Regions from separate parts of the Homo sapiens genome. Here regions 2 and 3 are each reported to be linked to region 1. Evidence: microRNA targets listed by miRTarBase, many of them from high-throughput screens and not tested one by one. Region 1 holds a microRNA gene; each other region holds the end of a gene's coding sequence.

Region 1 (3,258 bases):
AATCAGAAAGACAAAAAAACACAATACAAAAAAATGGGGCAATTTTAGCTTTTGCCTCTGAAAGCCTGTTTTGTCTTATACTTGGGCACCAACAAATTACCTGGGCACATGTTTCTTCAGGGGATGTAGTACTAACTCCAAAAAGAACAGGAATGTCTAATGTATATACAGTAAACTTTTCCAAAGCATGAATGACAGCTGGTGCCAAGTGAGAACCTTGCCCAAATCCTGGTTCTCCTACTATCAATATTCTTGGTCGAAAAGACATAGGTTGGTAACAAGCATTTCTGAAAGAGAAATGATTAATAAGCTATGTTTTAGAAAAAACAGTTTAAATTTTCCCCCTAAATTGTCAACTATAAACTTTCATAAGTAAAAAGTCTTGCCAATAAGGCCAACCAATCATAACATGGTTCACATAGTTTCTGGAAACTGACCCCCAAAGGTTTTTAGGAATATTTTTATAGACTGTAATTTCTACTGTTGTGACAACTGTAACAACAAAAAATTTCTGGTAGTTTAATTTAAATAAAAAGCAGATTGGTTAGCACTTTTTATTTTTTCAACCACATCTCATTTATTTTTAGAAAATTTACACATGCAAAAAACATTGATTTGCAAGAAAAATATACCTATTCAAATGAAGAAAATTAAAATTGTCTTTTGCCTTATGAGAAGATTTCTGAGAAAGTCCATTTTCATAAACTGATGGAACATCATCATCACTGTAAGCCAAGTCACTTTCTAGCAGAGGACAAGAAATATCTATAAAACCAAAAAATTGTACATTAGTAACTTTTGGATTGCAAAGCAAATCTTTATTGCTTCAGTTACCAAGTCAGCATACTTCAATTAAATTTTTTCAAAGAATCAAAAATATTTGTGTAGATATGAATTAATAAGTAAATGTAAAAATGCACCCCAAACTTACAATAAGTTAAATTAAGGGCAATCCATGGAGTAAATTTCCTTCAAATATCCCAGGTAAAGCATTACCAAATTCTTTTCAAGAGATTCTTTTACAAATAAATATTTCTGGTATGTATGAAACATTTCACTTTACTGATTATAAAAACTAACTTTAAATGGTCAATCAAGTTTTATACCTGAGTCTAATGTTTTATTTGTTCTGAATTCTGCATGTGGAAATACTCTCTGCAGGGCTTCTAAAATCTTGTCAACAGTGTTTTGCAGGAGTGGTTTCACAACGGTGGACAGTGCCTGCCCAGGTGATGTCACAGCTCTTTGGGAGGCTGGTATCATCTTTTGCATAGCTACCTCGAAATCCTTAGCTGAGATATTAATTGAAGAGAGATCCAACTGCAGTTTCTCACTAGTGGTATAGATCTGTGGGTAGCGTCGTCGTAAAGCACATAAAGCAGCTTCAGCACATATTGATTTAATATCTGCTCCACAGTATCCTATCCAAAGCAACCAGGGGAAGAAAAGAACCAGCCGACCAAACAAAGAAACACAAAACTCTATTAGCATGACCATGGTTAAAAAAAAAATTAAAAATCAGCCTCGGAATATAGTTAGCAAATATTTAAGAGTAATAAGACCAAAATCTCTTTTACCCAGTAAACTTATAGGGTAGTAATGGCCATCAACAATCAATCAACTTTTAAGAGTGCAATACACAAGCACTAAGTATAGCACAGAGGTCAAAAGCAAGAGTTTTAAAATCACACAGACTAGATTCACATTCCAGTTTGTAATTTACTAGCTGTATGACCTTAGAAGATTCACATAATGCTCTCCAGCCATTTCTTCATCTGTAGAGATACTGCTACCTACATCACAGGAATGATGTGAAAATTACATGAAATAATATATGTAAAATGCTTAAAAGGATGACTACAAAATGGTCAGTAAAGAATAGCTATTATCTTATTATGATATAATAATATATTGTATTTTGTACAATTATATTATTATCTACTCTGCCCCTGATGGCCAATTTGTCAAATATCTCTATTTAATACCAAGACTTCATGAGAAGAAAATGCCACAAATAAGAGATAAGAAACAAATATAACCTTGTATTTCTTTATTAGTCTGGTGCAAAAGAAACTGTGGTTTTTGCCATTACTTTTACAGGCAAAAACCACAATTACTTTTGCACCAACCTAATATAACTTGTTTCATATTTGAAATAAATGTAGTATTTATTTTAACTGCTTAAAACAATGTTTACCAACACAGTTTTCTGCTAGCTCTTCTAAAAATGTGTCCAGTGGTTTGGGATTCCAATCCCTGGTGTGAATCTTTAGAATCTCTTTTCGAGCCTATGAATAAAAACAATTTAATTTTTTACAACTATAATAATAAATGCTATTCAGATTACATTAATTTTGATTAAAATACTTTTGATTATCTAAAATTTTAAAGTGATCAGTACTTAATACTGGCCGGGTGCGGTGGCTCACACCTGTAATCCCAGCACTTTGGGAGGCCGAGGCAGGTGGATCACTTGAGGTTGGAAGTTCAAGACCAGCCTGGCCAACATGGTGAAAACCACTCTCTACTAAAAATACAAAGATTAGCTGGGCGTGGTAGCATGTGCCTGTAATCCCAGCTACTTGGGAGTCTGAGGCACGAGAATTGCTTGAATCCCGGGGACGGAAGTTGCAGTGAGCTGAGATTGTGCCACTGCACCCCAGCCTGGGTGACAGAGCAAGACTTTATCATAAACAACCAACCAAAAAAACTCAATATAAGCAAAATATGAAAGTGAAAATAAGAAAAAGGATGTACTTTTAAGAGTTTAATGAACTTAAGTCTCATTATTAAACATATTTGCATTTATAGCACTAAAGTTATATTCGTCATAAACACAAATAAGAGAAAAGTAACTACTAAAGTAGCTATTCATTCTGGTGCATATTAAGAGCTGTTTTTAAGAGTACAGACAGCTCTTGACATATTTTCCTCTTTGGTTCCCAGAAGATTAAGTAGACTTAAAAAAACTCGGTAGGATTATATGATGATATTCATGAAAAAGACAAGGCTAACAAACTGGCTAAGGATTGATTACTCATTAAGCCATATGTTCTGAAGCAACACTTAGAACATCCAAAGGCTACACTCAAATTGAAATAATTTTAAGAGTAATTTTGGGAAGGCATTATTATATTTAAAGAAAAGAATAAAAATTTGTCCCCATTTGAGTTGTTTACTATCATTTGACAAGACCATGATACAAAACTCAAGAATCTCCAAATTTTTACTATACCAAGACTTATTATTAATAAACAG
Region 2 (3,258 bases), not on the chromosome of region 1:
TTTTGACTTCTACATAAGACATATAGGTAGTAAACCTAGATGATCTTCTAATTCCTTTGCTTCCCTGTTTTGGCATCCTAAAAAACGCACAGCAGCTGGTCTGAGCATAACTGGCCAGAGAAGTAACTGAATAATATTTCCGACATTATTTGTCTAGACAGTCATCATCAAAAACAGTGATGCTCGTGCAACCACTAGTGTCATATGAGAGGGGGGGAAGAAGTTAAAACACATCTAAAAGTAAATTTAATAGTTTTAAGTTAAAACTATAAACAAATTTTTAAGTTAAAACTGTGTATTGAAAATTGTCTGGATATTAGCATATTTACTGGCTGTCATACTCATACCTGCTGGGGTATGGCTATTTTTCTTTTTAAGATTTGGAGTCCTGAAGCCACAACAGCAGAGCTGATCAGGAAGAGGGAACTACGGCGAGAGAGGTTTACACATGAGGTGGACTTCGACGATTTTATGATGCCTTTTCAGAAGAACATCACAGAGAAAGCTCGAGCACTGGAAGCTGCCTTGAAGACCTAAGTCATAGCAGTTATTTCTTGGGGTAAATGCTTTGAGGCCCAGGGACCAATCTTTGGAGAAAGTAGATATTTCCATCAAAGCCAAAGCAATCCATACACCAAGAACTTGTTACCAAGAATTTCTTTTTGCTTTAACAACTATAAATATTCTTAGCTGTCTAGAGAAAAGATGTATGTTATTTTGAAATGAATGGTATGTCATTCTGGATAAATCCCCAAGCCCCTTTATGAATGTAGTGAAATACATGGCATGTGGGTTATAAACGTTGCTGTCAAAAGATTTACCAGGTCTACACCATTATGCTTATTATTTTTTTAATTATCCTTTTTATTTATTAAATAGAGACAGAGTCTCACTATATTGCCCCAGCTGGTCTCGAACTCTTGAGCTCAGGCAGTCCTCCCAACTTGGCCGTCGAAAGTGCTGGGATTATAGGCATGAGCTACTGTGCCCAGCCTGCTTATTGAAGATACATTTCTAGTGGAAATTGATGAAACAATTTAGGTTTTGGAAAAAGAAGTAATATTTAATCTTTTAAGGAAGGAGTTTATTTCTCACATGCCATTATAAACTATGTGTATTAGATACCTTGGGTTGAATACACTTTTAACAGCCCTAGATCGATAGCCCTAGCCCTAGATAGATAGCCCTAGCCCTAGATAGATAGCTATTAGGTTGGTGCAAAAGTAATTGTGGTTTTTGCCATAACCTTTAATTGCAGCAAAAACCGCAATTACTTTTGCTCCAACCTGACAGCTAGGTATCTAGCTAGCTAGAAAGGCAGATAGACAGATATATAGATGATAGATAGATAGATGATAGATAGATAGATAGATGATAGATAGATAGATAGATAGATAGATAGATAGATAGATAGAGATTTATTGCAAATAATTGGTTTACATAATTTTGGGCCCCAGATGGTTAAGTGCTAAATTTGTAGGGTAGGCTATCAGGAAGTGCAGGCTGGAAACATGCAGGAGCTGTCCCTGAAGTCCACAAGTGGAATTTCTTCTTCATCATGGAAACCTCAGTTTTGTTCATACACCTAAATACTTCAGTATGTCTTTCCTAAAATAAAAGGCATCCATTTACCTAACCAGATTACGATTGTGAAAATTTCAACTGTTGTTAAAGCGACTGATGGGATCAGTTTCACCTAGATTATCTAAAGCAGTCTCCTTTACATAAAGTCAATGAATTGTAAATATTGGTTGCATGTACACAATTCCTTCACCACAACACCTAAGATTAGTATTTGATTGAGTTACTGGGTGCTACAACCTAGCCAAGTTGAGTCATAAAACTGACCATCTCTGGAGGTGTACTCTGCAGTAAAAAGCTAGCTGAGGCATTATTCACACCAAGAAATGCAGTGGGTACCGAACAGGAGCTCCAAAAATATCCAACGTCTCATTGACAGAAAGAAGCCACTTTAGAATCTGCCTTACCAGAAGGCACCAATTGCAGATTACAGCTCTGTCAGTCACGTATGGATTAAACCCCTTTCCTCTAACCTCCTCCCTCTCTTTCCAACCTTGGAGGGACCTTCCACAGGAGCCAGTTAGGGAGGAGAAGGGAAGAGAGAGAATGAAGCAGGTAACCAGGCCCACCCCTCTGGAGGAGACAGACCTGAACAGGGGTTGCTTACAAGCATTGCATTTGGATCCCAAGATTTGCTATTACAACTAAATTTTGTCTGTTTTGTAAGGTTTTGGTTGGTTTTTTTGTTCTCTCTTTTCTTTTTGTTTTGACATAATTTCATATTTATGGAAAAGTTGCAATAATTTGACAAAGAATTCTTATATGCCCTTTACCCAGATTACCTAAATGTTAACCACTTACCACATTTGCTCTATCTCTTTCTCCCTCTACATATATGCATATGTATGTTTAATTTTTGTCCCCGAACTATCTGTGTGTCCGTTGAAGACATGATGAAGACATGATGTTCTTCACATGATGTTTTCATATTTGTGTGTCAGTTGAAGACATGATGTTTTAAATATTTCATTGTGTATTTCCTAAAATCACGATGTTCTTTTGCATAACAATATTACCATTGGCAAACTAAGGAAATTAACACTTAAGTGAACTATTTAATCTATAGACCTTATTCAGATTTTGCTATTTATCCCAATAATTTCCTTTGTACTCCCAGGTCATGAAATACATTCGCTTGCCCCATCTCTTTAGTCTCTTTTAGTTTAGAACAACCTGTATTTCTTGTTTGTTTGTTTGTTTGTTTGTTTATGACAGTATATAAGAAGAACACAAGCCACTTTTATCTTGTAAAATGTCTCTCAACTTTGGTTTGTCTTAAATGTCTTCAAGAATAGATTCAGGTGATGCTTTTGGGGCAGCAGTGCTACAGATGTCATTGCACCCTTCTCAGTACATCATATCAGGAGGCACATGATGTTGATACCTGATATAAACTTTAACTGCATTTGCAGTTGAGAGAAATGTAAATAAAAGTAAAGCTGCAGTAATAAATCATAACTGCATAAAATTAACTGTAGTACATACTGTACAACTGTAATAATTTCATAGCCACCTCCTGTTGCTATTGTGTTGAGTTCAATTGTTGTCTTTTCTCAAGCTTACTTTATTGCACAAATACAGTATTTATAACATACAAAATACGTGTTAATTGATTATGCTATGGGTAAGGCTTTTGGTCAACAGTAAGTTATTAGTATCTAAGTTTTTTGGGAGGCA
Region 3 (3,258 bases), not on the chromosome of region 1:
ATTTAACAACTGGATTGTCCTGGGAAATCGGGTGGTATGGCTGCTGAAATGTTGAGCTGTATGTTGACACTTAATGACAGGAGAGAATAGGAGACTGGAAAGAGTTTAGTGTGTTAGCATGGTTGATTGGGGTGAGTCTCTCCAACATTTGATTTGACACTTTTATGCTGTTCATACAATACAGAAAGAAAAGCAGGCTTCCATTCACGCCTGGCTTTAATGCTGTGCAGCCCCTTTCCCTGTCCTTATCTCAGTCCCTGCCTGTTCTTTCTCCCCCGGGATGGATGCCGCCTCTTATCACTCTCCCACAGACTCCACCGCTGACCCTGAAGCCGTCCTGGCTGAAGCCTCATCCCGGCTCTACTCCCGGTTTGGATTCTCCAGCTGCACCCTGCAGGTCGAGCAGTATCAGCCGGAGATGGCCCAGTGCCTGCGCTGCCAGGAACCCCCCCAAGCCTGAGCCATGGCCCTGCCCTCACCCCACTGCCAGGCCGAGGCTCAGCCCCAGACTCTCAGCATCTGCTGCCCTGATCACAGAGACGGGACCGAGCCAGGTCCATACCCCTTCCTCTCTCCCTCCTACCACCTGCCAGTTTCCCCAGCCTCAGCCCCAGCCCCAGCCCCAGTGGGCAAGACCAAAGTGTGGCGGGGAGTGGGGTGGGAGTCAGGGGAATAGATGTGACTAGTTCAGGGGCGGGGACTCCCAGGCCTCAGTGTGGCAGGGTGTGTTGAAGGCCTGTGGTGCCATCTCCCCATGGTTCATGTGGAGCCACGAACATCCTTTCCCTGCAGTCCATTTGTCTGTGTGGCAGGCTGGCTGGCTGGGGGCATCTGCCTGTCTATGTGCTGTTGGTGTGCCTATGCCTGGGGGAGGTCAGTAGGGGCCCCCTCCCCACATGGCCCTCGCTCTGTCTATGCAGGGGCCCCAAAGCCCGCACTTTGTCCGTGTGTCTTAGCCCTGTGGTTTTGTCTGTGTGTGTGTGTGTGTGTGTGTGTGTGTGTGTGTGTGTGTTCTTGGTGCTGTGGCCTGTGTGTCTCTGTGCCTATGTGGCTGTGCTATGGTTTCTATGAGTCTGCTCCATCCATGTGTCTGTTTGGGGGTCTATCTCTCCATCCCTCTGTTGGTGCTGTGCCCTTGGCTATCCCTGAAAGAGGGAGGACTCCGCTGCAGCTCCACCAATAAACTTGTGTCTCACTGCATCTTTCAGCCTGTGTGCTGACTCCTCAGGAGGGGGAAGTCAAATAGGTCACTTGAGAACAACAGAATCCCTCCTGTCCCTTCCCAGCCTCTGGAGTGACCTCCCACAGACCTCCTGTCCCTTCCCAGCCCCTCCACCCTCAGATGGAGGGTAAAAGCCACCAGTCTCTTTACTCCCCTTCCCCTGGCTCACAGCATGCCTGGGTCCTTGGCTCAGGGACAGTCCCATGTGCCCTGGGCTTGGTTGCAGGAGAATGCTGGAAGGTAAGGAGCCAAGGAATCCCTGGGAGTCAGTCGTTCTCAGAGGTCCCTGCATGCCAGTGGGCCTCAGGCTGGCTGGAGGGAGGCTGGGTCCCTTTGAGGGAGAATGGCTAGACCATAGCACTGATGTGGGCTTGGTTCTCAGGCCATCTAAGGTGTCCAGCGGTAGGGACCCCTCAACCCTGATAGCAGCCAACCCTGAGTCCAGGTTTAGGCTGTGAACACCAAGGACCTCTTTTACACCTATTCCCCCTTTGTCTTAAGAACTGCATATTTTGACACATTAAGTCTTAAAATCAGGCTCATTAAGGGATTGTTGATTTTCTCTTTAAAAAAAATCAAACTCAAGCTGGACATAGTGGCCTGTGCCTGTAATCTCAGCCCTTTGGAGGCTGAGGCAGGAGGATTGTTTGAGCCCAGGAGTTCAAGACCAGCCTGGGCAACCTAGGGAAACCCCTGTCTCTACAAATAATTTAAAAATTAGCTGGGTGTGGTGGTGCATACCTGTAGTCCCAGCTATTCAGGAGGCTGAGGCAGGAGGATTGCCTGAGCCCAGGAGGTCAAGGCAGCAGTCAGCCATGATCATGCCACTGCACTTCAGCCTGGGCAACAGAGCAAGACCTTGTCTCAAAAAAAAAAAAAAATCAAACTCACTGGGTTTGGTGGCTCATGTCTGTCATCCCAGCACTTTGAGAGGCTGAGGCAGGAGGATCGCTTGAGGCCAGGAGTTCAAGACCAGCCTGGTCAACATAGTGACACCCTGTCTCTACAAAAAAAATTAAAAATAAAAATAAATTAGCTACGTGTGGTGGTGTATGTCTGTGGTTCCAGCTACTCAGGAGGCTGAGGTGGGAGGATCACTTGAGCCCAGGAGGTTGAGGCTGCAATGAACTATGATCATGCAACTGCACTCCAGCCTGAGCGACAGAGCAAGACTCCATCAAAAAAAAAAAAAAAGAAAAAAAAAGAAAAATCAGCTAGGCAAGATGGCTCACGCCTGTAATTCCAGCACTTTGGGAGGCTGAGGCAGGCAGATCACTTGACCCCAGGAGTTCAAGATCAGCCTGGGCAACATGGTGAAACCCTGTCTGTACAAGAAATACAAAAATTAGCTGGGCATGGTAGTGTGTACCTGTAGTCCCAGTTACTTGAGAGGCTAAGTGGGGAGAATCACTTGAGCCCAGGTTGTCGAGGCTGCAGTGAGCCATGATTGTGCCACTGCACTCCAGTCTGGGCAACACAGTGAGACTGTGTCTCAAACATGGTCAAACCCTGTCTCTACTAAAAAATACAAAAATTTGGCCGGGCACAGTGGTTCATGCCTGTAATCCCAGCACTTCAGGAGGCCGAGGTGGGTGGATCACCTGAGGTCAGGAGTTCGAGACCAGCCTGACCAACATGGAGAAACCCCGTCTCTACTAAAAATACAAGAATTAGCCAGTGTGGTGGCGCATGCCTGTAATCCCAGCTACTCAGGAGGCTGAGGCGGAAGAATTGCTTGAACCCAGGAGGCAGAGGTTGCGGTGAGCCGAGATTGCATCAGTGCACTCCAGCCTGGGCAACAAGAGTGAAACTCTGTCTCAAAAAAAAAAAAATTAGCTGGGCATGGTGGTGGGCACCTGTAATCCTGGCTACTCGGGAGGTTGAGGCAGGGAGAATCGCTTGAACCCGGAAGGCAGAGGTTGCAGTGAGCTGAGATTGCGCCACTGCACTCCAGCCTGGGCGACAGAGGGAGACTCTGTCTTAAAAAAAAAAAAAAAAATTAGACTCTGTGCTTTGATTTTAGATCTAGTGCTTCA

Evidence for each region. The annotated mature microRNA hsa-miR-548t-3p reads AAAAACCACAAUUACUUUUGCACCA and lies in region 1 at 2,103-2,127, shown strand. An mRNA with a match to its seed (bases 2 to 7 or 8) in the 3' UTR can be bound and repressed. Matches are read on the target gene's strand: a 7mer-m8 pairs with bases 2 to 8, a 7mer-A1 pairs with bases 2 to 7 and ends in A, and an 8mer does both.
Region 2: the mRNA of ANKEF1 is a reported target of hsa-miR-548t-3p. Seed matches in the 3' UTR shown: 7mer-m8 at 1,231-1,237 and 7mer-m8 at 2,257-2,263.
Region 3: miRTarBase lists SLC30A3 as a target of hsa-miR-548t-3p. Seed matches in the 3' UTR shown: 7mer-m8 at 962-968.

What each region holds. Positions count from the first base shown.
Region 1 is chr8:123,345,986-123,349,243 of GRCh38, forward strand. It overlaps MIR548AA1 (microRNA 548aa-1), which reads left to right and starts at 2,049; the gene lies at 2,049-2,145. ATAD2 (ATPase family AAA domain containing 2) reads right to left here. Exons shown (of 28, transcript NM_014109.4): 15 at 2,198-2,288; 16 at 1,107-1,421; 17 at 633-765; 18 at 101-287. MIR548D1 (microRNA 548d-1) reads right to left here and starts at 2,145; the gene lies at 2,049-2,145.
Region 2 is chr20:10,055,124-10,058,381 of GRCh38, forward strand. It overlaps ANKEF1 (ankyrin repeat and EF-hand domain containing 1), which reads left to right. Exons shown (of 11, transcript NM_022096.6): 11 at 379-3,180. The coding sequence ends at 537. All of the region lies in intron 3 of SNAP25-AS1 (SNAP25 antisense RNA 1), which reads right to left. Among named protein-coding and RNA genes, the nearest start is that of ANKEF1, 22 kb to the left of the region's middle.
Region 3 is chr2:27,252,514-27,255,771 of GRCh38, reverse strand. It overlaps SLC30A3 (solute carrier family 30 member 3), which reads left to right. Exons shown (of 8, transcript NM_003459.5): 8 at 312-2,088. The coding sequence ends at 460. Among named protein-coding and RNA genes, the nearest start is that of SLC30A3, 8.9 kb to the left of the region's middle.